3 separate regions of the Homo sapiens genome follow, and regions 2 and 3 are each linked to region 1. The links come from fine-mapping of genetic effects on plasma protein levels. A gene starts in region 1. Each other region holds a variant in brackets. All regions are shown on one strand. Distances are between the middles of the regions.

Region 1 (8,528 bases):
ATTTAATCAGGGTATGGAAGCAGCAGACATATAAATTGCATCTGTTTGACACGGTTGGAAGAGATGCCATGTCTTCATAAAAGAGCAGGCTTCAGTCAAGGAAGTGGGTAGAGAATATTCTTCCTCTTGTTTGTTGGTATAAAAAAGCATGGAGATCCAGAAGGCAAAATGAGAGAATCTGCCAGGAAGAGAAATGGTAGAGATAAGTGGATCAGAATTGGTAGAAACAGGACTGAACATGAATAAATGTTCAGAAATAATAGGTAGTCCATAGACTTCAATACCTGGTGTTGATAAAGCTCAGCAGATGTGCTGTTCCTGGCAGCCTTAGTTATTGTCATCATTAATGATAAAGTGGGACTTCTGTCAAAGAAAAAAATTATCAGAGTGGGAGAGGAATAAAAATGGAAAGGACTGTCTGTACCTCAGAAGATGATAGCAAGGGAGAAAGGCAAAGCTAGTAAAACTATGGAGGTTTTCAAAATTGTGATAGAATAGAGAGGCATTTCCAACCTGTGAGTGGGAAAATTGTGATTCTTTCTAGTCTAGGATTTAATTGCATTTTTCTCTCACTGCTTCCATTTCTTGTGAGACACCTTCTGTTATTTAGACTATGTCAGGAAGAGCCTTAGACATTATTCAATCAAGCTCTTTTCTGTGAGATAACTGAAGTCCAGAGAATTCATAGCTTCTTGTCCTTAATGAGGTATATACTTAGTGTCAGTTTCGTGAGTAAAAATGAAGAATCTTGATTTCTAGTATAATTGAAATTTCAGGGATTAAAGATAATGGTGTAAGTATAGTAACTTTATATGAGAAAATAACTAGCTGAAAAAGGTCAAATTTGGGGGTGAATGTATGTTCGATTGCAAACCCATATTTTGAGGTTTTAAAGTCCATATTTTCCAAGATACTTCTACAGCACACAAATATGACATTATGTGTTACCTACTTACAGCATTTCCTTAATATCACCAATGAAATCTTGAAAATTGATGGCCAAAAGTATTTACCGACTTTTTTTTAACTTGTATCGTTGTATAGGGAAATAATGATAAAAAATGGAAACCTGATGCAACTGGGATTTTTGTAACCTTGACTTTGCCTAGCATGGAATAGGACTACACTTGAACTAACCCAGGATAGCTGTTCTATGACATCTCCCTTAACCCCAAGTCTATCCCTTTATTTTTTAGTACTTCAATGTACTTTCTATTCTGGGATGTCCAAGTAGAAAATGACCAATTTGTTTTTTTACATAGAGACTAGAGGATATACAGCTTGGTTTCTGAGAGACTTCCTTTTTTAATAATAATAAAATAATGATAATAAACAGGAGACAGAGGAGAAGAAGTTGTTTAACTTTATAGTAAATATGCTAATATTAAGGATAAGTTCTCATAACAATGTAATCTTGTAATATTTTGATCATTTAATTAACATTCCAAAGCTTTGTGTATGTGTGTGTATATATATGTGTGTGTATATATGTATGTGTGTACATATATATGTGTATATATATATGTGTGCATATATATATATGGGAGATACTAAATACTAAATACTAAAAACTAAATACTAATACTAAATACTAAAAAATTAAGGCATATTTAACAAGAAATAACCTACAAACCTATCCATGCTTCTTAAAGCCTTACTGAAAATAACAAGTCACAGAGTTTAGAATGTGGTAATACAGTAATATCAGAAAAACTATGACAGAAAGAAGGAAAGAGAAAATACTTTCTAAAATTGAGTAAACATATTCTAGAAACATTCTTATTTGAGTATGAGAATTCTGCAAATGATACTGAATTTTAAGCAATGATCCTGGATTATAGGGTTATTCTCAAAGTGGAGGGACTAAACTTAGCACATACAGACAAAAAGATGAAACAGAAATAAATCACACTTATAACCTCATCATTCCAAAGTAATCTTAATAAAATAATAGCAGGAGAGATAAATTTGAAAGGCTTTAATATTAGATACCTGGGTCAATTTAAAATGCCATACCAGACTATATTTTGATGTGCTAACACTGACCTCTCAATAGTTCTTCTGTAAATCATCAAGGAAACTTATGTAATAATCAATTTATACAATTAATGTGGTAGTTTTGGAATTAAATGCATTACCTTATAAAAGAGAAATACAAAGCAATGTAGTGAAACTTCCCAAGCAAATATATGTGTATCAACTGAAATACACATATACATATCATATACATATATATACACACACGTGTATGTGTACTTACAAATAATGCGTGCATACATATACATATGTATGTATAAAATATGTGTATATGTGTTTATATATGTAAACATAAATATAGACATAGACTTGTGAAAGAGACCAATGAAAGCAGATAATTATAATTTGAAATGGTGATTTTAATATGTATTCAGTCATAAAAGTGGACCAACATCAATAGAAAGGAAAGGACAGAGAGCTGAGGGTGTGTAAACTGCTGCTCTCTTTTTGCTGTTGGGTCAACATGTCAGCAATGCTTTCATATGGAGCAGCTTGCAGACATGAAACAAGGTGGTTCCTCCTTTCTTTGCCTTTGGATTGTGCTGTTGTTAGTGTCCAGAGACCAGACTGTCCATATAGGGTTCTTTTTGTGATTCTTTATTATAATCCCCTGAGGAAGTCAGACGAGCCTGGGGTTACTGGAGACAGTGTCTTGCTTGGCGTAGTTATCATCCACAAATCATCTGCTATAAATATATCTCAGAAGGATCATCATCAGGCCAGCTCAGTAGCCTGCAATTTATGAAGGTTATGAGAAACAATGTGAAGGGTGAAGCGCTTTATTAAGGGTGGCTTTCTTTTCTGACCCTGCCCTGACTTCTACTTGAATATAAATGATCCTGGGAGTAAGTGAACCTTTCCATTTAGGATTTAGGCTTTTAAATTGTCCCTTTCAGCTGTTATTCTTATGCCACTGTGTCATGACTTTAAGAATTTCTAAGAAACATCAAAATCAGTGTTACAAGATAATATGAGAAATCACTAGATGCAAAATAGAGGTATAACTGAACCTCACATTACATTCTTTCCTTTTTATGTATAAACCATCCAAAGCATTTTTTCCTCCGTTTTTATTCCACATCTGTCATGCTTTTTTTTCCTCTGGATAAAGTAACAGAACTGACCAAATTGCCTTGCGAAAATCATAATTACGATCTCTAGGGAAGTTGAAATAAATAAAATGTTTTTCTCCTTTGTGTTGCTCAATGTTCTTTGTTTTTAAAAGAAAATGTGTTGCTTAAACGGTGTTTCAAAATTTGTTCTGGACATAAACCCTAATTATTTCCTTTTAACATTTCCTTAAATGAATAAAAAATATTGTAAAGAACCAAAATGACACAAAACCAAAATGCCACCCAGGCTGCTCTCTTGCCGGTGATTTGTTACTGGGAAAATAGTTAAAGCCTGCTGGGGAATTATTAACTGTTTCCCCTTACAGTGTTTATCCCAGGCATTCGTTTAAGACGGGAAAGCCTTGAAGAGGGTCACTCTATTAATATGCATTAAGAAGTAAAGGACCAATTTTAATATTTCAAACAACTCCAGTGGATAACAGACCATAAACTTCCTGTTTTCACTATCAATCTCTTTTAAAATGGTGTTCTTGGCTATCCATAATCGCCCCAGGGGAGAGAAACAAGCGGAGGAAAAAAATGCAAGAGTGAGGGGAACAAATGATGGAAAATTGCTTTATTCAACTTCACCTGCCGCTCGAGAAACTCACCCTTACGAAGATTCCAGCACTTTATATGAATTACCCATTATGGTTTCCTCCCACCACATCACTGCACTATTTTAGCACTTGTTTTGCAAACCACCAACTGCGTTTACAAGTAGAAACATAATCAGGAGGCGAATGACCTTTTGTAGCATGTATCTGAAGCTGGTTTATCAGACACTTCGTCAGCCAACTGTCCAGGAGGCAAAATGACTATCTATGATGATAGATAGACAGACAGATAGATAGTTAGATTAAAAGGTGGGGAAACATCCCTTTTCCCTTTTTCCTTTCTATATAATCTGGTTTTTTCTCTTCACCCCTTTTCTCGCTTCTTCCCACCCCGTCCCCAAACCTGTTACTAGGGAAACTTGAAAAAGAATCAGATACATTAAGACTACAAAACGAAACAAAAGTTTAGACCCCGAAACCATGATTCCATTGCCAAGCACAAAGCAATGCAAGAGCCCAACGTCGGTCGCCGCACCGCGATCCTGACAAAGCCTGTATGGAGCCAGAACAAATAAGATGTTAATTGCAGCCTCGCAGAGAAAAAAATACTATTGTTCCAGCCAGAGACACTCAGCAGCTCGGTAGCTGGGATGTGCCCCCTCCGCTGCGGACTGGATCAATTCTGAATCCCGGTACTGAAATGACAGCTCTCTGGCTGCGACAGGTCTGCGCTGAAAGAAAGAGAAAGACGATCAAGTCCAGCATTCACTTCCCACCCTTCAGAGTCGCCTTCCCATCCTCCGCACCCCCCTGCCTCGCCTCCCAGTGAGTTTCTCTTACAGTTGGTCGCCGCCAGCCCCAGCGGTGGGAACTGAGGATGCAAAAACCTCCCAGACGCAGAAAATACCGCTTTCGGGACGTGCTTGGGTTTGAGTAGCCGTGACGTGCAGGCGAACCGCGGCCCTGGCTGGAGCTCCGTGGAGCCCCCCTCCCGCCAGCCTCTCCCCCGCCCTCCCGCCGGGACTCCCTCCTCTCCCACCCCGCGGCTCCCTTCGCCTTCTCTCTCACACACCCGCCCGCGCCCCCGGCAGGCAGAACTCCAGGAAGTCGCAGCGGCCGCGCCGCGCGAGCCGAGCCTCTGGCGGGCGGCGGGGCGCACCGCAGCTGTGCATAAGAAGGGCGCGCGGCACCCGGGACGCGCGCGCACACGAGCACGCGGGAGGCCGCCGCGCGGACGCGCTCCCGGGACACGCGCACCCCCCGCGCGCGCGCCCAAGGGAGAGCGAGCACTGCGCGCCGGCGCGCACACCCGAGACAGAGCTTTACTATCTCGCTCCCTCTCGCGCCTCCCTCCTCGCTGGGCATTCAAACAGCTTTCCGACATCACCAGCCAAGGATTTTTTTCCCCGCTCTCCTTAGTCGCCGTCCGTCCATCAGTACCTGCAGGGGGGAGGAGGAGGAGGGAGGAAAGCGGAAAGAGGAAAAAGCATAAGCTTGAGCCTTCCGATCCGACCACGAATACTCCTGTAATAAACCCACCGCCCCAACAAATCTGCCATAGCAGCCGCCGCCGCCGCCGGTCACTTCTCGTCTCAGCGCTTTCTTTGCTTCTTGGTTTGTTGGGGGTAGCTTTTATGAAACAAATCTTTGCTATTAAGCCACTTACATTTTGGGGGGTTCCTTAGAGTCTCCCTTGGGGGGGCTTCTCCCTCCCTTTAGCCCCCCTCGGTTTGGAGGTTGGATTCAGTTGGATACGGCGCAAGGTTCTGGGCTCCTGCTGGCTTTTTTTTCCTCTCTCTCATCGACCCCCCTTTGGTTCCCACCCCCCACCTTTTGCTTTTCGTATGTATGCATTTTTAAAAATAAATCCTGATTTTGGAAGCTGAGCCGGGGAAAATGGGCAACGGTGATTGGGACCGAAGGGGAGTCTCTCCGTCACTGTTGCTGGGACGCGTGCCTGTGCTGGTGTCTTAGAGCAAGAGCCTCCCTGAGCTTTCGGAGTGGAAGGTAAGGAAGGGGGTCCAGGGGTCACCTTTTCTCTGCCGGGGGTCGCCACCGTGGAGCTTTGGGCTTAATGTTTGAGAAGGGAGGAAAATGAAAGGAAAGGCTGTTGCTGGCGGATGGGGAGGCTGTGAGCAGATCCGACTGTCTGCATTTACTTAAACGCCGCAGTTGAAAAGTTAGAGAAGTCTGGTTTTCAAGAGATGTGCTGGGTCAGAAGGAATAAGCGGAGAGACCTAGAAAATCTGGCAGTTTTGTGTGATTGGGGTAATTTTATGAGGGGAAAATTTTAGGTTAAAAGGAAGTTAAGAGAAGGCAGTGGGTCTTCTATTGGGGGGAAAAATCTGTGGAGTGATGGCGCCGTCTATGTTCGACTAAACTAAAGTGTCACCCAGAAAATCAGTTTTGAGAATAGCTAAACTCAATGCTGGTTTGCTTCTCAGCAAGAGATAAATAAATAAATAAATAAATAAATAAATAAATAAAACATCCTTGACACCTCCGTGGCCAGCCTTTGCCCCCGCCCCCACCCCTTCTTTAAGAGGGAAACACGGCTTTTTGAACGGGCCCTGCAGTCCAAAGGGGGGTGAGGGTAATGATTTATTTTTTATTATTTAGAACAAAATAAGACTGTGTACTCCAGACTGATTAAAAATAAAGAGCATTATATTGAGTGCGCTCTCTTGAGCAGGCATTAAAGTGAATTCAGAGCTATTTCCTCACTCTCTGATCATTGATGAGCACGGCATTGCAGACATGCACTGTCAAATAAATGAAAGCAAAAGTACCAATTTCATTAGGAAAAGACATACGACCTCTTTTTGAGTTCCTGATTATAAAATGAAGTCCCCTTTCATGGATGGAATTCCTAATTTAGACACTTATTGTCACATTGGCTCTCAACGCCTACACTCTATCCTGAAGAACACTGCGCAGACCTGCATTGCCTGCAAAGTGCAACACCAAAAAAAAAAAAAAAAAAAGGAAATTATTTCCAGAATTTCTTACAACTTTCTCTGTTTTTTTTTAACCTTTAAATGCTCATTGGCTTTATTTTCTCATGAAGAAAATGCATTATTCATTGAGCTATTTGCTTGAAACAGAGAACACTGTTTTGATGGTCCCAGCAGTTCTGATGTTATTTTAAACTGCTGCTATATAGAGATTTAGAGTTGGGGCTGTGTTTGCCTATATCAAGACATAGAATTTGAATTATAATCTGGAAAATGCAGATCTATCTTCAGGGACTTCGGTCACTGGATTTGGTGTGCATGCGTTGGTGTGTGTTATGCAATGGGAAGGAAGAGGGTTTTATCCTTTGATTCAGAGAAGACCCAGGCAAAGGCATGAAAACTCTTAACTATCTATATGTCTGTATGTCTGTCTCTGTTTACAGAACAGTGGAAGAGACTGCAGCCTAAAGACTTTTAAAATTAACTTGGCATCACTTTTATCAGCTCAAAGGCTAAACAAACAAACAAAAGCAGTGTCATTTATTCTAAGAAATAACTTCTTAAAGGTTAAAGCTGAAAAATATTCAAGTTATTTTTGGATAACAACTTACAGAGGTAAATATAACCAAGGACTACTTTATTATCCAAAGCCAGGGTTAAAATTAAAAAAGAAAAGAAAAGAAAAGAGGAGCTTTGGAGTTGTTGTTGGAAAGGGAGCAATTTAATAATTGAAATCTGCTAGGAACAAAAATGTTAATGTATTTTATTACCATGTGTAAGCCTTAAATTACAGTTGATAAGATAATTTTTCAAAAATTAAAAGACTGAAACCAGCTCAATTACTATGGTTCTGGATTTTTTTTTTTTTTAACTGATATCACCTTTGGATACAGATACTAATACAGTGATCCACTTTATGTATCCCAAAAGGGCATGTCACATTGAAATGACTGCCCTAAATCCTGGTTCTCAATGGTGATGTTGAACAACAAGTCTTCCCTATGTATTTATCCATCTATGCCCTTTCTCAAATGATGGTTTTAAAATTAACTAATCCACATGAATGCCCATGTTTTTGCAAAGGAATTTCTGAGCAGTTCACATGGTGGCCCCTGCAAAGGCAAGTGGGGCATTTGGGAGATGATGTTCCATCTGTAATAAATTATTATTTGTGCTTTTAAAATTGTGGCCATAATTTATCATCATTACTTTTCACGTTTAAGAGGAGAGAAATAATGTGATGACAGCTGTTCCCAGATTATCAGATTAGATTTTGTATGATAGTGTTTACCGCAGAGGACAGAGAGAGAAAAGGTTGTATAGACTATAGACTGATTAATACTATTTCGACAATTAACATTTACATTATGACGTTTTAAAACTCCATGTTTTCCCTTTTCATTCGATAGAATGATAATGGACGTGGAGGATATCCTAGTAGATAAGTTAGGGCATTCCTATTAATAATCTATTAAATGTTATTTTTAAATTGAATGTTGCGAATTTGACCATTGTGAATGGCCACATGAGGGCGCTGTTCACACAGCAACAGATAATTTTCCTGTGTTATAAAATAAAAATTACCTGCCCTTCTTTTAAAAAGGGCTTTTTACTGAAATCTTGAAAACAGCTGGCTGTAATATTGAAAGGAGTTTATTTTCTCAATGCACGTAGACTCCTACTTGCATTTTACTTTCATTGCCATTTTTACAGGCCAAATGACATAGGATGAAGGCTGTTCGTAACCTGCTGATTTATATATTTTCCACCTATCTCCTGGTTATGTTTGGATTTAATGCTGCCCAAGACTTCTGGTGTTCAACTTTGGTGAAGGGAGTCATTTATGGATCGTATTCTGTAAGTGAAAT
Region 2 (8,000 bases), 320 kb after region 1:
GTTTTTTCTATGCCCACTGATGCCACCATAATTCAAGCCACCATCAGCTCTCTCTGGACTACATACAGTATAGTCCTCCAATATTTCACAGTACGCATTCTTGCCCCTGTACCATCCGTTCTACACAAAACCACAATATTAGGTTTTAAAATGTAAATTCTATCTTATCACTTCTTTTCTTTAAAATCTTTTCATACTTTGCATCTTCCCTGGTCGCATGGCCTATAGGGCCCTATAAGATCTGGCTTCTGCACAGCATCTGAACCCATCTCTTTCCACCTCTCCTTTTCCAGGATCCCCACAAGCCCCAGTCTTCTCTCTGTTCCTGAACACAGATCTTCACATGCCAACAGATATTTTACATGTAAAAGATTTTTTATTGCCAAAAATGAGACATTGTTTAATTTTTAATTTTTCTTTTCAGTGTTATTCTGGATTTTAAAAAAAATATTAGTGAATTTATTTTACAGTCCTCAGCCCCATAACATTTCTGGAAACACTAATGTCATTTTATTGAATAAGAAAAAAGTGGAGGTCAGGGAGGCTTTGGGGAGGTGGAAATTAAGAGTTGGCTCTGTCCAGTGATTCAGACTCAGCTCTAATATCGTCGTCTCCTGAGACTGCCTGAGCACTCCCTATCACATCGCCCTCTTTATCACGTTGTCTTCATAACACCTCTAGTGAAACGCTCTGGTTTATTCATTTACTCGTTTATCATCTGCCCCCACTACAGCCCCCAGACTACATGTTCATAAGAGCAGAGCTCAGCCAGTCCTTATCACCACAGCTCCCCCGTGGCGCAGTTGAGCAATGCCAATCACAGACTAAATTTTCTATAAATCTTTACTCCTGTGTGTGTTACGAGACTCCAGGAGGGATTGTGGAGTGTTTACGTTTTCCCAGCTTACCAGGGAACTCTTTTCTGACAGAATGCTGAGATGTGAATCAGTTTTCAATAGAAAGACAGTTTCAGAAAGAAAGCTTTGAGGTATTTTTAAATTCGTAGGTTTGCAATGACCCTGAGAGGTCCCTCTTACAAATATTGGAAGTAAGCCATACACAAGGAGCAGGCATTGAGTGGGGAGAGACATTGATTGTCTCTACTACCTCGCTGCTGAGCCCGGTAAAAAGTCAAGCCTGCCTGCAGGGTTGAAGGAGAAGCAGCTTCCTCACCACTTTAGCTCCCCAGTTAAACATCAGATAACAAGAAAAAAGCTGTTCCTTCACATCTTGGAGAACCTAGATGAGTGTTTATAAAAAAAGAAATAGAGATATATAATATGATAAATTGTTTTTATTTTTACATTTCTCTACATTTATCCCTAAAAGATAATGCACAAATTCTATCTGGAAATGCTTAAATATCCAAAACAGAACTCTTAATTTCTACCCCCCCAAAGCCTCCCTGTTCTCTATTTTTTTCTCATTCAGTAAAATGACACTAGTGTTTCTAGAAGTGTTATGGGGCTGCGGCCCATAAAACAAATCCATTAATAATTTTTTTTAATCCAGAATATCACTGAAAAGAAAAACTTAAAAATAAAACAATGTCTCATATTTGACACTAAAAATTATATATATACATAAAATGTCTGTTGTCTGTATATATGTATGTGTGTGTATATATTACATGTGTGTTTATATATATATAGTCTGTTGTCTAGTTTTTTAAGTTAAATTTATATATTCATCTCCTACCTGACTTTTCAATTATCTATTTTCTCAATGATTTGGACTTGACACACTAAAGAAATATTAGGCCTTTCCTCTTTTGTTTTTCATATCCAATGAGTTATTTTGTCAAGCCAATTCCTTCATAATAGTGCAATTACACCAACATGGCACACATATACATATGTAACAAACCTGCACGTTGTGCACATGTACTCTAGAACTTAAAGTATAATAAAAAAAAATTAAAAAGCTTGCAAAAAAAAGTGCAATTAATTTTCAAAAAGGATCTTTTGGTTCTCAGTGTAAAATAAAATCGCAAAAAATGCCCACTTGATGTATCTTCAATTTCATTATTTTCTCTGTTACTGACTTTGTGAACAAAACTGACCCCATCTAAAATACATGTTTTGTTGATGTTTATGGTAGCGTTGAACCTCAAATTGCTCCTCAGATTTCTAATATTAACACTCTTAAGCTTTAACATTAACACAGAATATGTACATGGTTAGAAAGGATTGAACAACTATAACTACAAATATATGAATTTAAAGTCTCAAAACATTTTATTATTATTGATGCAGTCTTATTTCAGTAAAAGCCTGAGGAGCAAAACACTTCACAAATAGATGTTCTCATTCTTCCTAATATCATCTCAGCAAGGTCCTTCCTAATTCTTCATAGAAATACAGTCCCCTGCCAAATTATCTTCTCTCTGATTTCGACATTTGACTTGCACATTCTAGATGCCACACTTTGCTAGACACTCTTATTCTCTCTTTGCCAGAAAACATATAACTATTGCATTCATAATAAATCATACTCAAAATTTACCTTAAAGCAGAATACTTAAGGACATCACATAGTCCTTTATTCTAGTCACTCAGCACTAAGATTAGCTTAGCAGCACCTAATTCACCTTTGTTAATGTGCTGCTTTCTTTCTGAATGTTCTCAATAATGTGGATAACTGTACATCCTTTTGCCAAATAGATTGTAAGGTGTAGGGCATGAATCTCTTTTTATAAACCCTTCTCAGAATGCTTAGGATGGTGAGGCTTCATACTGCAAGCTCAATAAATGTTATCTTTGAATAGAAAAATTCTGAAATGAAAAATGCACTCATGTTTAAAGCCAAAATAGAGGGGAAATAGATAATTTATAATATCCTATTGCTTCACTAGAATTTTCTTTTTAGTCTGGAAAATAGACTACATAACCAATATGATTGTATCAGGCACTTGTAATAAAGTGAGATGCTAAAATTACATTAATGGAATGATTAAATTGGCATTTTGTGATTTTTAATCTCATAAAGGGTTTATTAAGTACAGCTGGATGCCTGTTAAACAATCTCTTTTTAATACCTACATGTAAGGCTTGAAGTTAGATTGAAAGTACTTATTATATTCTGCCAGGCTTTCTTGTTTATTTGGATGGATTTTCATAGCACCATTAGCTTATTTTGAAACTTTAGATTTGTGGTGAATTCTCTTTCACCTGTGATCAAATTGACTAAGAACAATGAACTGATCTTGGAAAAAAGTAGACATCCACAGACTGATGCATTTATAACCTTTACATGCTAGTTTGCACATTCTAATCTAGAAAGTATTTTTGGTTAAATCCTTTGTTTATTTCTATTTTGTGGCATATGGGATTGTGCCTTTGTCAATGCTGACTTTGTCTAAATTGTCCATAACTCACCACTCTGTGTCTATTATAATTACATCCCCAGTAGATGCAGTATGTCCTCTGAAAGCCTAAATACTTCATGTTTCATGTTAAGATGGTATTGTCTTTAAACATTTATTTATTTATTTATTCATTTGCATGCAGAATGTCCTAAATTATAAAATTTTTGAGGTTAGGATTTATATTCTTTTATTTCTGTGTATCTTGTTAACACCTATCACAGTGTCTGATGACTAATAGATTCTCAAAATTATTTGAATGAATTAATACATGAATCTCAATTTGAATCTCCCAAAGATAAATCAAGCTGAACAGTCTATATTACATTCCAGTCATCAGAAAACAGCCATCTAAGAGTCACCTGGATCCTCTCTTTGCATCAGCTCCCATGGCCAGTTCTTCAGTTTCTTCTTACCACCCGTTCCTAGTAACTTTCTAATCTCTCCAAGACACTGCATCTGCACTGCCTCATCATCACAGCTCAGATCCTTCCCAACTTCTGTAATTTGTTCTCAATCCTACACTAGATCTGATCATAGTATTATGGTATTATGTATTATTTAAATCGTTCAATGGCTTTTTTTTTTTTTTGAGACGGAGTCTTGCTCTGTCCCCCAGGCTGGAGTGCAGTGACACAATCTTGGCTCACTGCAAGCTCCACCTCCCGGGTTCACACCATTCTCCTGCCTCAGCCTCCCGGAGTAGCTAGGACTACAGGCGCCCGCCACCATACCCGGCTAATTTTTTTGTATTTTCAGTAGAGACGGGGTTTCACCGTGTTAGCCAGAATGGTCTCGATCTCCTGACCTTTTGATCCGCCTGCCTCAGCCTCCCAAAGTGCTGCGATTACAGGCGTGTTCAATGGCTTCTTAAACACCTGAGAATAATATCCAAAATCCTTAACACAGCTGATGAAAGTTTTTCATAATCTAGCCTCTCTCTTTTTTAAAACTTCTGCAATCTCTCCTCACTCAGCACTCTAGATGCCTTTCACAATGACCTTCATCCAGTTCCTGGAAATGCCCATGATTCTTCTTCCAAAGATCTTTGTATATTCCTCTGCATGGAACATACCTTTATCCTAAGTATGTTCTCTTTATCCTTCAAGGCTTGCCTGAAGCCTCGGTTTGTCAAGAAAGACTCTCTGGACCTTCCAAAGTCTTATCTCACAATGTCCTGAAACTATCCTTTGCAACACTGCCATGTAATTGATTTATCTAGCATGTAATTCATGGTTTATTTCTAGGGGTTCTTTCTCTAAAATATGAGCTCGATAAGGTCTTGCTCAGTATTTAGTTTGTTCACTATTTCATGTACCCCATCTCCTAGCACAATGTATTGCATCTTTGAGTGATCAATAAATATTTTTGAAGAAATAAGTGAATCAAAAGATATACTGGAGGCCAGGCATAGTGGCTCACGCCTGTAATCCCAGCACTTTGGGAGGCCAAGGCAGGTGGATCACCTAAGGTTAGGAGTTTGAGACCAGCCTGACCAACATGGTAAAACCCTGTCTCTACTAAAAATACAAAAATTATTTTGGGGTGTGGTGACAGGCACCTGTAATTCCAACTACTCAGGAGGCTGAGGCAAGAGAACTGCTTGAACCTGGGAGGCAGAGGTTGTAGTCAGCTGGGATCATGCCGTTACACTCCAGCCTGGACAACAGAGCAAGACTCCATCTCCAAATGAAAAAAAAAAAGATATGCTGGATATATAAAATAAAATAAAAGTGGGAAAATAAGGTAATAATATTTGGGGAGTTAATAAAATCTCATGCTGGTGTGACCTTCCATTGTATTCATTCATAGTCCATTGATTGGGGTTCATCTTCAAGGGTGGTTTTACCAGGTACTTTCTGTACAGCTTGTCCTATTGGAAGATATCCTCATGCTGTCTCTTTTTCTGCTTTGGTAGTTGATGGACAGTGGCAAGAGTGGAGTTCGTGGAGCCAGTGCTCAGTAACGTGCTCGAATGGGACTCAGCAGAGAAGCCGGCAGTGCACTGCAGCTGCCCATGGAGGCTCCGAATGCAGAGGGCCATGGGCAGAAAGCAGAGAGTGCTATAACCCTGAATGTACAGGTAGGGCTTGATTCCTGCATATCATGGGCACTCGTACCATGTAAAGGGCACATTATAAAATGTGTCAGAACTATGCCAGAGGGTCATGAAAGAAGATAATCATTATATATATATGTGTGTGTGTGTGTGTGTGTGTGTGTATACATGTATTTATTAATGAAGCCGATTATACCAGAATTTATTCTAATGTATGCCATGCTAATAAAGTAATAAAATTCAGGAGATGAACTACGAATACATTTGAGGAAGTTTAGCACTGAGCTTGCACTTTTTACACTTTTTTACACTGTTCTTCGCAATGCTCTATATTTGACCTGTAAGTTAAATATTTGAATAAGGTTTATTCACAGTAGTAGATTAACAAAAATGGAAGGGGTAGTAACATTCTCAGATTTTAAAATTTTTAAAGGAGTGTGTGGTAGATGACTGACATTGACCATGAAACATTTCTTTCAGCCAATGGTCAATGGAATCAGTGGGGTCATTGGAGTGGTTGTTCCAAGTCCTGTGATGGCGGCTGGGAAAGGCGAATAAGGACCTGTCAGGGTGCAGTGATAACAGGGCAGCAATGTGAAGGAACGGGCGAAGAAGTGAGAAGATGCA[A/G]TGAGCAGCGATGCCCTGGTGAGAATGAACCCAAATTATCCCAAAAGAAACATTTCATAACGTGAAAAAAAAAAGATTTAAAAATATTGTCATTGGTTAAGGGTCATATTCCTCAACTAAAGAACTACTAATGATAGGTGGCAATTTACTTGTTTCTGTACTATGTGGGGCATCCCCTGTTTATGTGTCATAGAATCGTTCCATGTGAAATATTTGTTTGTGGAGATTACAAAACAAGTTGCCTTAGGATATATATACTGGAAATGTAAAGACATAAGAAATGAATGAGAAGATAAAGAAGTGTCGCTGACATTCAGATGCTTTTAAGTTCTGTTGCTAATTACTCTGACCTTGATGTGTGACCTTGATTATCTACATTTACTTGCGTTTGCCCCATTTTTCATTGGCAAAGGAAATTCCTATGAGGAATGCATTTTAAAATGAAAGTATAAAGTCTTAATTGCTAATGAAAAAATGAAAGTCCTGCTACATTAAAAGATTTTACATATAAGCAGAGAAAATAATGAAAGGTCAGAAACTGCCCAGATTATACAGCACATATTTTACAGGATCATTTAGAACAAAAACTCCTTCCTAATCATGTGTACCTTCCATTAAAATATTATTGACACACTGAGGACTCAATAAGTAAGTGAAAGTCAGGATTTTAGAATGAGATCCTAAGAAAAATATTATAAGTATACTAAAGATGTGATAGGACAGAATTTTAAAATTTGACAATATAGTGCCAACGTGCTGAACCTAGAGAATTTGAAGACCCACTTAGAATCCTGTTGCTGCTAGTAACTCTGTGAGCAAGCTGACTGATCTCTCTGGCTGTCTGATTCCTGGGGGTACAGTGAGTACAGCTGGTTGTGAGATCTTTGAGGTTCCTTTTCAGTTCAGAATGCTATGAATTTCTGCCTTTATCTCACATGATTGTTTCAACTTAGAAGAACCAAGGTATTCTAAGAGCTATCCAGGAGTCAAAGCTTTGTATTTTTCCAAAGTTAGTATTATAAAGACTTCTCACAGTACAACACTAAGAATAACAACAGAACTGGATTTTAAGAGTAACAATATGTCAGTTGGAGTTTTGTGGGGGCTTAAAAAAGATCGAAAATTAGGGCCAGGCATGTTGGCTCATACCTGTAATCCCAGCACTTTGGGAGGCTGAGGCAGATAAATCACCTGAGGTCAGGAGTTCGAGACCAGCCTGGCCAACGTGGCGAAACCCCGTCTCTACTAAAAATACAAAAATTAGCCGGCCGTGGTGGCATGCACCTGTAATCCCAGCTACGCAGGAGGCTGAGGAAGGAGAATAGCTTGAACCCAGGAGGTGGAGGTTGCAGTTAGCCGAGATTGCACCACTGCACTGCAGCCTGCGTGACAGAGCAAGACTCTGTCTCGAAAAAAAAAAATCTAAAATTACTTTTGTTAATTCTTAACACCATATGAATTCAATATGATAAAAAGTAACCAGCATGCAGGGTTGTTAAGAGGATGATACCTATTCAGATTACCACTGTGAAATTCTTCCAGTGCTGCGTAAGAAGAATTAAGATGTATTAAACAAAAACATTTATTTTGCCTAGGGAGAAATTTCACAGAATAGTAAGCATAATTAAATCAACCCCTTCAATATTTGATGTTATCTAAACCAGTCTGGGCATACCACAGTTCTTAACTGGTCTTTTAAAATTGTCTTTCATCTGCACATATAGAGCCAAGATAGTACTGCTGCAATCAAATTTACAGAGATTGCCACCTGCTGTTTGAAAAACATTTTACAGATCTATTTATGAAAAAGATAGTGTACCTTATTTGCCGGGCTTGTTTGCTGGCTTTCATGACTTAAGGCAGGTTAAAAAAATATCACATAAAACTAAAAAAAAAATTATATACACTACACATTTTTGTTATTATTAACATTTTCATTTTACTCTTTTC
Region 3 (8,000 bases), 330 kb after region 1:
TAAAAAATAATTGTAGAAATAAGAAAACATTTTTTAAAAATAATGCTAGTTGGGCTATAGAATAGCTACAGGGAAGATAATAAGTGGTCCAATTTTTAAATTGGTCAGACTCACCAGATAATGGTTTCATTTATCTCAATCTCATTGTGTATCCTCAGGCTTTGAAGGTTAAAATGGTAGGATGGTAATAGCTCCCCTAATTTTATTAATTGCTACAATGTCATACATAATATTTTTTAGGTTTTTAGTTTGATTTTCACCCCAATATTCCCCTGGTTAATAATATTCAGAAAGCAAGTGTTACTGCTGGACTGTCCTAAGTTTACATTCTAGCTTCGTAGGAACCACTTTGCCCTGCTCCCAGGAGAAGGGCTTGCTACTTCTATAACTCCAATTCTAGGATCATTACTCTTTAGTCATTAACTGCTAAGTTGGAACCTACCATTTACAAGTAAAAATTACACTTTATTTATACATAAAATTTCGTTCTTGGAACCACAGCTGCTTTGTCTGTAAGTGGTGGGTGAGGCCTCCAGGTTAAATGTGCTGATAAACACTTGTGAAGTAAGTCAGCCATATCATAAATGTATACAATATTAGCAACTTAGACCAGAAATGTAGGAATTATTGTGATGTTTATCTATAAATATTCATACTAAAGGAGGGCAGCCGTAGTGTTGGTAATGCAAAATTTGTCTTGAACACTGTAATACACTTGTATTAGGATTTGGTGCCCTATAATATAGCGAATGTGATCCCCATCCCCACCCTGCTTACGAAAAATGTGATTCTGGAAGTGACGGTTCCTTATTTGTATAAGGTTGCTCTCCAACAGGATTATGCCTCCTCTGGAGACCAGGAGAGTCTTCCTTTGGTCTCTAAGTAATTGTCTTTTAACTTAGCTTCAGTAGGAAAGAAGAACAAAGCTTGCCTACTTTGCACTCCTATCTTCTTTTGAGTGCCTCCCTCATTGTCCAAAGCAGTGCTTCCCAAACTTCAGTGTACATAGGAATCATCCAGAGAGCTTGTTAAAACACAGATTCCTGAGCCAGACCCCACCAGCCATTCTGACTCAGTAGGTCTTGAATGAGCCTGAGAATCTGCATTTTTATGAAGGTCTCAGGTGATGCTGAAGATGCTGGTCTGCAAATCATCCTTTCAGTTGCACTAACTTATAGTAAAAATAATAATGATAAGGTGATAAAATTAACAAAGAAGTGGAATACAGTCCTCTACCTCTGTTCCACTGGAGAAAGTTGAAATATCACCTCAACAAAATTGCAAAATTTTATTTTTTTCATCCTTTTTCATAAACGATGAGGGATTCTTTCTGGAATTGGTTGATAATGAAAACACAATTCATTTTGAATGCCTCTAGCCAACTCATGTTTCAGCCAAAATAAGATCTCTTTACAGCAGTCATTTAAAGAAAAATAGGACTATTAACTAGCTGTTGTGCACAAAGAAAGATGGTTTAGTCATTATCCAACTCTCAGTTCTCCAATCCTCATTTTTCCTCTACCACGAAGAGCAGGAGAAACAACTTGGGTATCATTTGAACAAGTCTGATGTAAAACCAGGCACTGCCAGGACACAGATCTGCAGTCCTGATGTTGTCAGCCCCAGCATCTCTCTTCCTGAGCAGTATATTTTCCCTGCCTCTTATCCCCCACAGGTATTAGCTAATTAGCTAATATATACACATACACTTATAAAATACTTGGTGTGGGGATGGTGTCATGGAGGAAGATGAGGTCTTAGCTCACTTTGACTTATTTTCTCCTCAGGTTCCAGTTAGTAGAATAGTGAACTAATCACTACTGATACAAATATTTTTGTCTTTGAGACAAATTTAACAAGTTAGATTCTTCTAAACTAAACTCTTGAACCACTCAATTTTAAGACTGAATGTAATCATTATTAGAAACCCAAATATGTCAGCATAAAATTT[A/G]CATTTCTTTTCTAAAGAGAAAATACACTACTCCATAATGAAATATTTGCATACAAATTGACACCTGCTTTACCTTGTTCATTTCAAACCAAGTTTAATTAAGCACAAACAGTACTTTTTAAAGCTCCTATTTCATTGGAATTTATATTATTTAATTAAGCACAAATAGTACTTTTTAAAGCTCCTATTCCTTTGGAATTTATATTATTTTCTGCTTTCAGATATTATCTGTATACTCTTTAAGGAATTATGTTATTACCTGTTGCATTCTTCAAAAGGTTAAAGCAAGTTTTGACTGCATATTTTTGGGAATAGCAAATTAGGCCCTACTCAAGTGTCCATACCAGTTGTTAACCTAAAACCAGCCACTGAGTTTAATGGTGACAGTAGGTGGCACTAGGTATTGACTTCTTTAATATTAAATGTTCTATTTGTTCTTGCCAAGTCACTTCAGATAAATAGTAAAAAGCAGGAAAATGAATTAGAACTTGAAGATATCCCATAGATGAGAGAGACCACCTGTTGCTTTTAATAAATACCTAAAATAGTATCCAATCTTCTCAAAAAGGATGAGTTTTACCACCTATTTTAGTCTACAGTTCTGCAGCAAATCAAGCTGAGTTGTATGGGCAGACTTGGGGAAGAACCGCTGAGATCTAAAAGAATTAATAACAGATAGTACTACTGTGGCTACAGTATGTATACCAGATGCCCATTATTCAAACCTGTTGCTATGGAGATAATTATTGTCATAATTCATTTTATCAGATTTTCTTCAGATGAGACTTTGATCAGACTCTTACAGTTTCTGCCATGAATTGCTTAAAAAGCAATTTTCTGTAATCTTATATTACCCTACCTTGTTCAATTTAGAAATATTTAGCAACATGCTGATCATTCTCAAATTGAAAAGAAAAATTTAAGCACCACCTTTTACTATTTTTTTATTTATTCTTTTCATCCCTTATTGTTTTTCTGGGAAAAAATAAACTTTAGGAACTGTTTAACAATTATTTTAAATTAAGAGATTTAAAATTACTTTTAAACCTTTTTTGAGCTTAATGTTTACCAAGACACTAAATCTGAATATTGGTCTTTGATGTTTCTCATCAACACTTATTTTTCTCACCTTGTGTATCCTGACATATGAATGACCTAAGACTGCCCCAGCACTCTTCTCTTTTGTTGATCTCTCTCTCATCAACTATAGCCTCTGTGAGCAACACCCATGAATGTACCTTTATGTCTAATCACTCACAAAAACCTGATAAAGCTTTCCTACCTGGGACTCAATTCAGACTCTGGGTAACTGGGGGAAACTTTTCTTTGATCACCAGATCCTCTGTGTCATCTGGAGTGATTCCTCATTCTAGCAATCCCTGTTCCAGATGGAGTCCATCATGGTATTTCTCTCAGTGGCCCTGCTTTCACTTCCTCCTGCCACCAGCTTCCAGTAAGGGAGGAGCAGTGCAGCAGGAAGAGCCTGAACTATGGAGTCCAACAAAGTACCGACTTGGGCCTTGGTGTCCTCATTTATAAAATAGGGATAATAATATGTGCTGCAGAAGATTATTTCAAGGATGAAATGCTGGAGCTAATTAGGATCATCAAGTGGCAGTTCATGTACTCTGTTACCCATATTATGACAACACCTGCCTTCTCTAATCTCTTCCACACAGATTTATCTGATTATTCTCTCTTCTTTATAGCCTTGTTCTTATGACTTGCTTTCTCAAAAACTTCTGTGGCTTTTCATTACTGGCCAAATTTCATCCTACTGGGATCCTTGAGATTCTAATATTTCTATCAGCTTCAATAGCTTTCCAATGTTATCTCATCCTACTCATTTATGATATATATTTTAATATACATTTGTTCATATGTGATAGAATCAAGCAGATGCAGCCTCTGGTTTCTGAATACAGGGGTGCATATTCTCCCCTTATGGTGCTGTTTGCACTGTTATTCACTTGGGCTCCCCTAATGTCCCTGTCCCCTCTCTTATCCTCATCTGTTGATAGGGGAGAATTTGGGAGCCCATCCATTAAGAGATGTCTGCTCTCCTAATAATTCTTTCTCCCACAATCTCATAAGTGTTCTTTCTTCTTTGAACCCCTATAAATTTGTTTGATATTTCCTTATTATATAGTATTATTATTATATGATTATATCTGTTGAAATTCCAGCTTATTGCAGATGAACTATCTGTTCTCAGCCTTCTGAATCCCTGATTCTTCACTGAGCCTAGTTAAATATAATAGGTCAAGCCCTTTTGAATGTTTTTATTTCATATGATAAAAGCTATAACTAATGAAAACATTTATATAAAAGCATATGAATAAAAAGTTTGCAATGACTCTGATGTTAGTGTCTTACATTTCATGGCCTTTCAGTGTTTCAAAAGTCTGTTCAATGGACTGATTTACTGGAAGAACATTTCTATCACATATATGATTTTTTATATTGTAGTTATAAATTGTGGTATGATTCATCTTTCTTTGGAAATAAGTAATTGAGATATGGGAGGTAGGAAAAATATATGTTTCTATAGCGAGTTGTTCAGTTTCCCCAAATCTCAGCCCAGCTTATTATTTTAAGCCAGAGCTTCTCAAGGCAGTTCTACCCTGTCATGGGAGGATTTGTCCCAGCTGTGCCCAAATAGTGGTTCCTAAAGCCTCAGAGCAACTGACAAGGCAGGAGACTGTGGCTAGTGGTCTCCAGTCTTCAGTAGCCTTGCCTACTTCTCCCAGTGTGCCTCCAAATACTATCATTTCTACATATGCTATGACCTAGAGAAGGCTAAGACTCACTGTCGTCTTTGGCTGTTCCTAAGGTAATACAGAAACTTAGTAAACGTAACTTTCCAGCAAAATGTTGAGCATACCCCAGTATAAAATTCAGTATAACTAAAAGTTAGTAAATAGCTTTTTAGAGTTATTCCTCAAAGTTAGTTAGCTAATTTTTTAATTAACTTTGTTATCAGGTTGAAACTAGAGTGACCTTGTCTGCTAAGTTTAAATATAAAATTATGCAATAATAATACAGAATTTGCTTATGAGTAAGTATATATAACACTGTCCACCAGGTACTTAAACAATCTGCAATATATACCATTTGCTAATAAATTGAAAGTTCATGGTTTGCTAACTTCCAGACTTAAAAACAAATATTTGCAAAATGTATAAATAACTTGTTTACCACCATAACAATAAAAAGACTCCTCTGCTTAGAGAAGAGGTAAACTTCTCTGAGAATGGACTCAACTATTTGATTGACCATAGGTCCATCATCTCTTAGCTTAGTGGCCTCAGGCTAAACACTAAACACTTTCTGTCTTGACTTCCTCATGTTTAAAATGAGAATAACAATTCTGTTCACAAGGTTATAAGAATTCTGTGAATTAAAATATATAACACAGTAAGAACAATAACTCATAATGTTATGTAAATATTGCTGATATAATTGTATGTTGTTTCCATTTGAGACAGATTAAAACCATTTCCTATATGAGGAATGCTGTTATGAAACACACTTCATAAACACTCTTCTTTTTCCCACAGACCTTAGCAGCAGCATGAATTCTTCACATGAGTAGGTACCACCTTGGAAATTAGAGCTGTAAGTCATTGAGCACAGACACTGGATCCGTCTTATTTTCCTCTGCATCCTCCAGCACAGGGAATTCCCCAAACACAAGAATTCATGAATTGCCAACAAGCGAATTTTGAAATGTGGGTTCTTGAGTAGTACATGTTTTTTTTTTGTGTGTGTGTATATCAGCTCTATAGTTTAGAATCAATTTCTTTTTAATGCTGAAATTCTAGCATATGGGGTAAAAACTAATTTTCCACACAAAATTGATTTAAGCCCTGTATCATTTCTGCTCTTTTTAAGAGACAGAAAATCAGTTTGAATAGACAGATTAACAGCTAATCACTAGGTAATTGCTACCTTACTTTAAGGGGCATGCTAACTACATACTTGTGACTTCAAGTATAGTTGTATCTTACAAATGGATTTTTATATCTTTGCACTAGTAAGAGCAAACAGTGAGATCTTTGAGCTGATGAACAAAGTTACTATTCCTTTTAGCTAAGGCATACAAAGAGAGAATCCTTCCTATTGCTGCACAATCGTATGCTTTTATGTTCAGTCTAGAGAGCAGCCTCAGCTAGTTTATTTTCTAATTTACAAAACACACACAAGTGCCATTAAACAGAAAAAATAATTAAAACAAATCTCTATCTCTAGCTTGTTTTCTTCTGGAGCTTGGATTCCATCATATATATCAATTAACTTTTTTATAATACCTGTATGTGCCTAGATATGTCAAACTCAAAACTATTTTCGGCATCTCCTCTCCCAAGTCATCTCTTCCTCACATGTTGTAGTTCAGGGTCTCGCTAGCACATAAGATATCCTTCCTGGAAACCTGAGTTCTGTGTTTTATTTCTTTATCCTCCTCACCTCTTACATACAATCAGCCATAGTGCTGAGCCCATTCTACCTCCTAAATAAATTTTGAATTAATCTACATCCTATGATTCTTCATCCCTTCCCTAATTACATCATTTAGATTGTGGTAGGCCTCCCTGTCTTCAGCTCTCTTTCTTTCAACCCTTTCTCCAAACTGCAGGCATAGCAAGCATTTAAAACATTGTCATAAATTTCCCTTGCCCCTAATATAAAGTCAAGATCCTTGCTTACCTCATCATATATTACCCCTCCTCCTGCTGAATCACCCACCTCTACTTATCCCCAACTTTACACTTTACCCTTTCTGAAACGGTCACCTTCTTGGTTATTCCCAGTTCTCTTTGCTCCCTGGATTTTCCCACATGTGGTTCCCAGGACACACTCTCCCCTTCTTCATTGGTGGAAGTCCTGCTTCTCCTTTACACCTCAACCTGGACATCCCTCTGGAAATCTTCCACTGACACACTCTTCCCTAAGGTACTCCCAGAGCAGCCAGGGCTTCTCAGCTTAGAGTGGGCATCCTGTGTACTGTAATTCCTCAAATTATCATCTTTATGACCATTTTAGGAGTCAAGAGACATCGACTATTCTTACTTAGCCTTTTCTATGTGTAGTATTTAACAAGGTGACTGGGATATGCTGGGTGCCCAGTAAATATTTGTTGAATGAATGAATTCTATAAGTGGCACTGAGAAGTACCTAGAAAGATCCCACTACTGGGGAATTCATAAAGATGAGATGGCAGAAAATCAATTGTTATTTTAATGTCTAAAGCTATTTTGCTTTTGGTATAAGCATAAATCGACCTATTTTCTGAGATAGACTCTTCAAAGAATGCCAAGTCACCTTTGATAAAATAGTTAAAGCAGCTGTACCGTTTGACATTACTACTAAAAAGCTGAAAACCCTGGACCAGTTTGCACCTGTGAATCTATGATTTCCCCTGCCATCTTCCTTTTTAAAAATAATAATAATTTGTGTAGTGGATTTCTGTCTCCAAGAAGCACAATGAATCCAAGGCTTCATAAATTTACTGTGGAACAAAACAAAAAGTTGTTGACATCTCTAGGTTTAAAAAATTATTGACTTTTGCTTTTCATTTTGTTTGGCTGTTTGTAGGCAGACCAAACTGATAGTCATTAAGAAGATAAAATTCAGTAATAGAAAGATGTGGTTGGTCAAAGGAAAACAACTATTTAATCAGCTTCTTCCTGAACCAGAGTGAGGATGTGTGTAGGGCACATTGGGGGATTCTAAAAAATGGTCCTATAGGATCTTAGTAAGTCAGATATAGCCCTCCAAGGCCAAACTTAGTCATTACATGATACCCTGGAAACATCTTTTGACTAATTTTTAAGGTAACTGTAGTAGCTAACCTCCCTATCTTTCTGCTCCTAACTGGACACGGCTATCTACTGCTAGAGGATCCACCCCCCACCTCCACCCCCGCCCCACACACAACGTCTACAGTATTTTTGCAAAATCATCTTCATTCTCTGCGATCTTAAGAAATAGGGTAATTCAAAAACAGATCTAGCCAAAAGAGAAAAATAAATCAGCTAAAAACATGTAT

Direction of the effects. Alleles are on the strand shown, and positions count from the first base shown. The strength of an association depends on the size of the effect and on how common the allele is.
As copies of A replace G in region 2, the plasma level of the protein whose gene starts at base 4,995 in region 1 goes up (strong association).
For the plasma level of the protein whose gene starts at base 4,995 in region 1, allele G in region 3 goes with a lower level than allele A (strong association).

Evidence for each region. PIP is the posterior inclusion probability: the model's chance that the variant is causal. The UK Biobank Pharma Proteomics Project read protein levels with antibody pairs (Olink). The fine-mapping took linkage between variants from a reference panel, not from the people measured, so its PIPs are less certain.
Region 2: its variant is fine-mapped to the plasma level of the ADGRB3 protein (UK Biobank, PIP above 0.99). The variant lies in the coding sequence of ADGRB3. If it changes the protein, the assay may bind it differently, which can mimic a change of level.
Region 3: its variant is fine-mapped to the plasma level of the ADGRB3 protein (UK Biobank, PIP above 0.99).

Annotation. Positions count from the first base shown.
Region 1 is chr6:68,630,288-68,638,815 of GRCh38, forward strand. ADGRB3 (adhesion G protein-coupled receptor B3) reads left to right here and starts at 4,995. Exons shown (of 32, transcript NM_001704.3): 1 at 4,995-5,713; 2 at 7,104-7,275; 3 at 8,374-8,528. The coding sequence starts at 8,389. It overlaps LOC127898563, which reads left to right and starts at 5,603. Exons shown (of 1, transcript NM_001414704.1): 1 at 5,603-5,680. The coding sequence starts at 5,603. The coding sequence ends at 5,680. It overlaps ADGRB3-DT (ADGRB3 divergent transcript), which reads right to left and starts at 4,037. Exons shown (of 2, transcript NR_125872.1): 1 at 3,898-4,037; 2 at 2,376-2,769. RefSeq lists a silencer at 4,734-4,943.
Region 2 is chr6:68,950,742-68,958,741 of GRCh38, forward strand. It overlaps ADGRB3 (adhesion G protein-coupled receptor B3), which reads left to right. Exons shown (of 32, transcript NM_001704.3): 7 at 5,283-5,447; 8 at 5,904-6,068. Among named protein-coding and RNA genes, the nearest start is that of ADGRB3, 320 kb to the left of the region's middle. The variant A/G (reference allele first, on the strand shown) is at 6,051.
Region 3 is chr6:68,959,742-68,967,741 of GRCh38, forward strand. The region is part of intron 8 of ADGRB3 (adhesion G protein-coupled receptor B3); the gene reads left to right. Among named protein-coding and RNA genes, the nearest start is that of ADGRB3, 330 kb to the left of the region's middle. The variant A/G (reference allele first, on the strand shown) is at 1,952.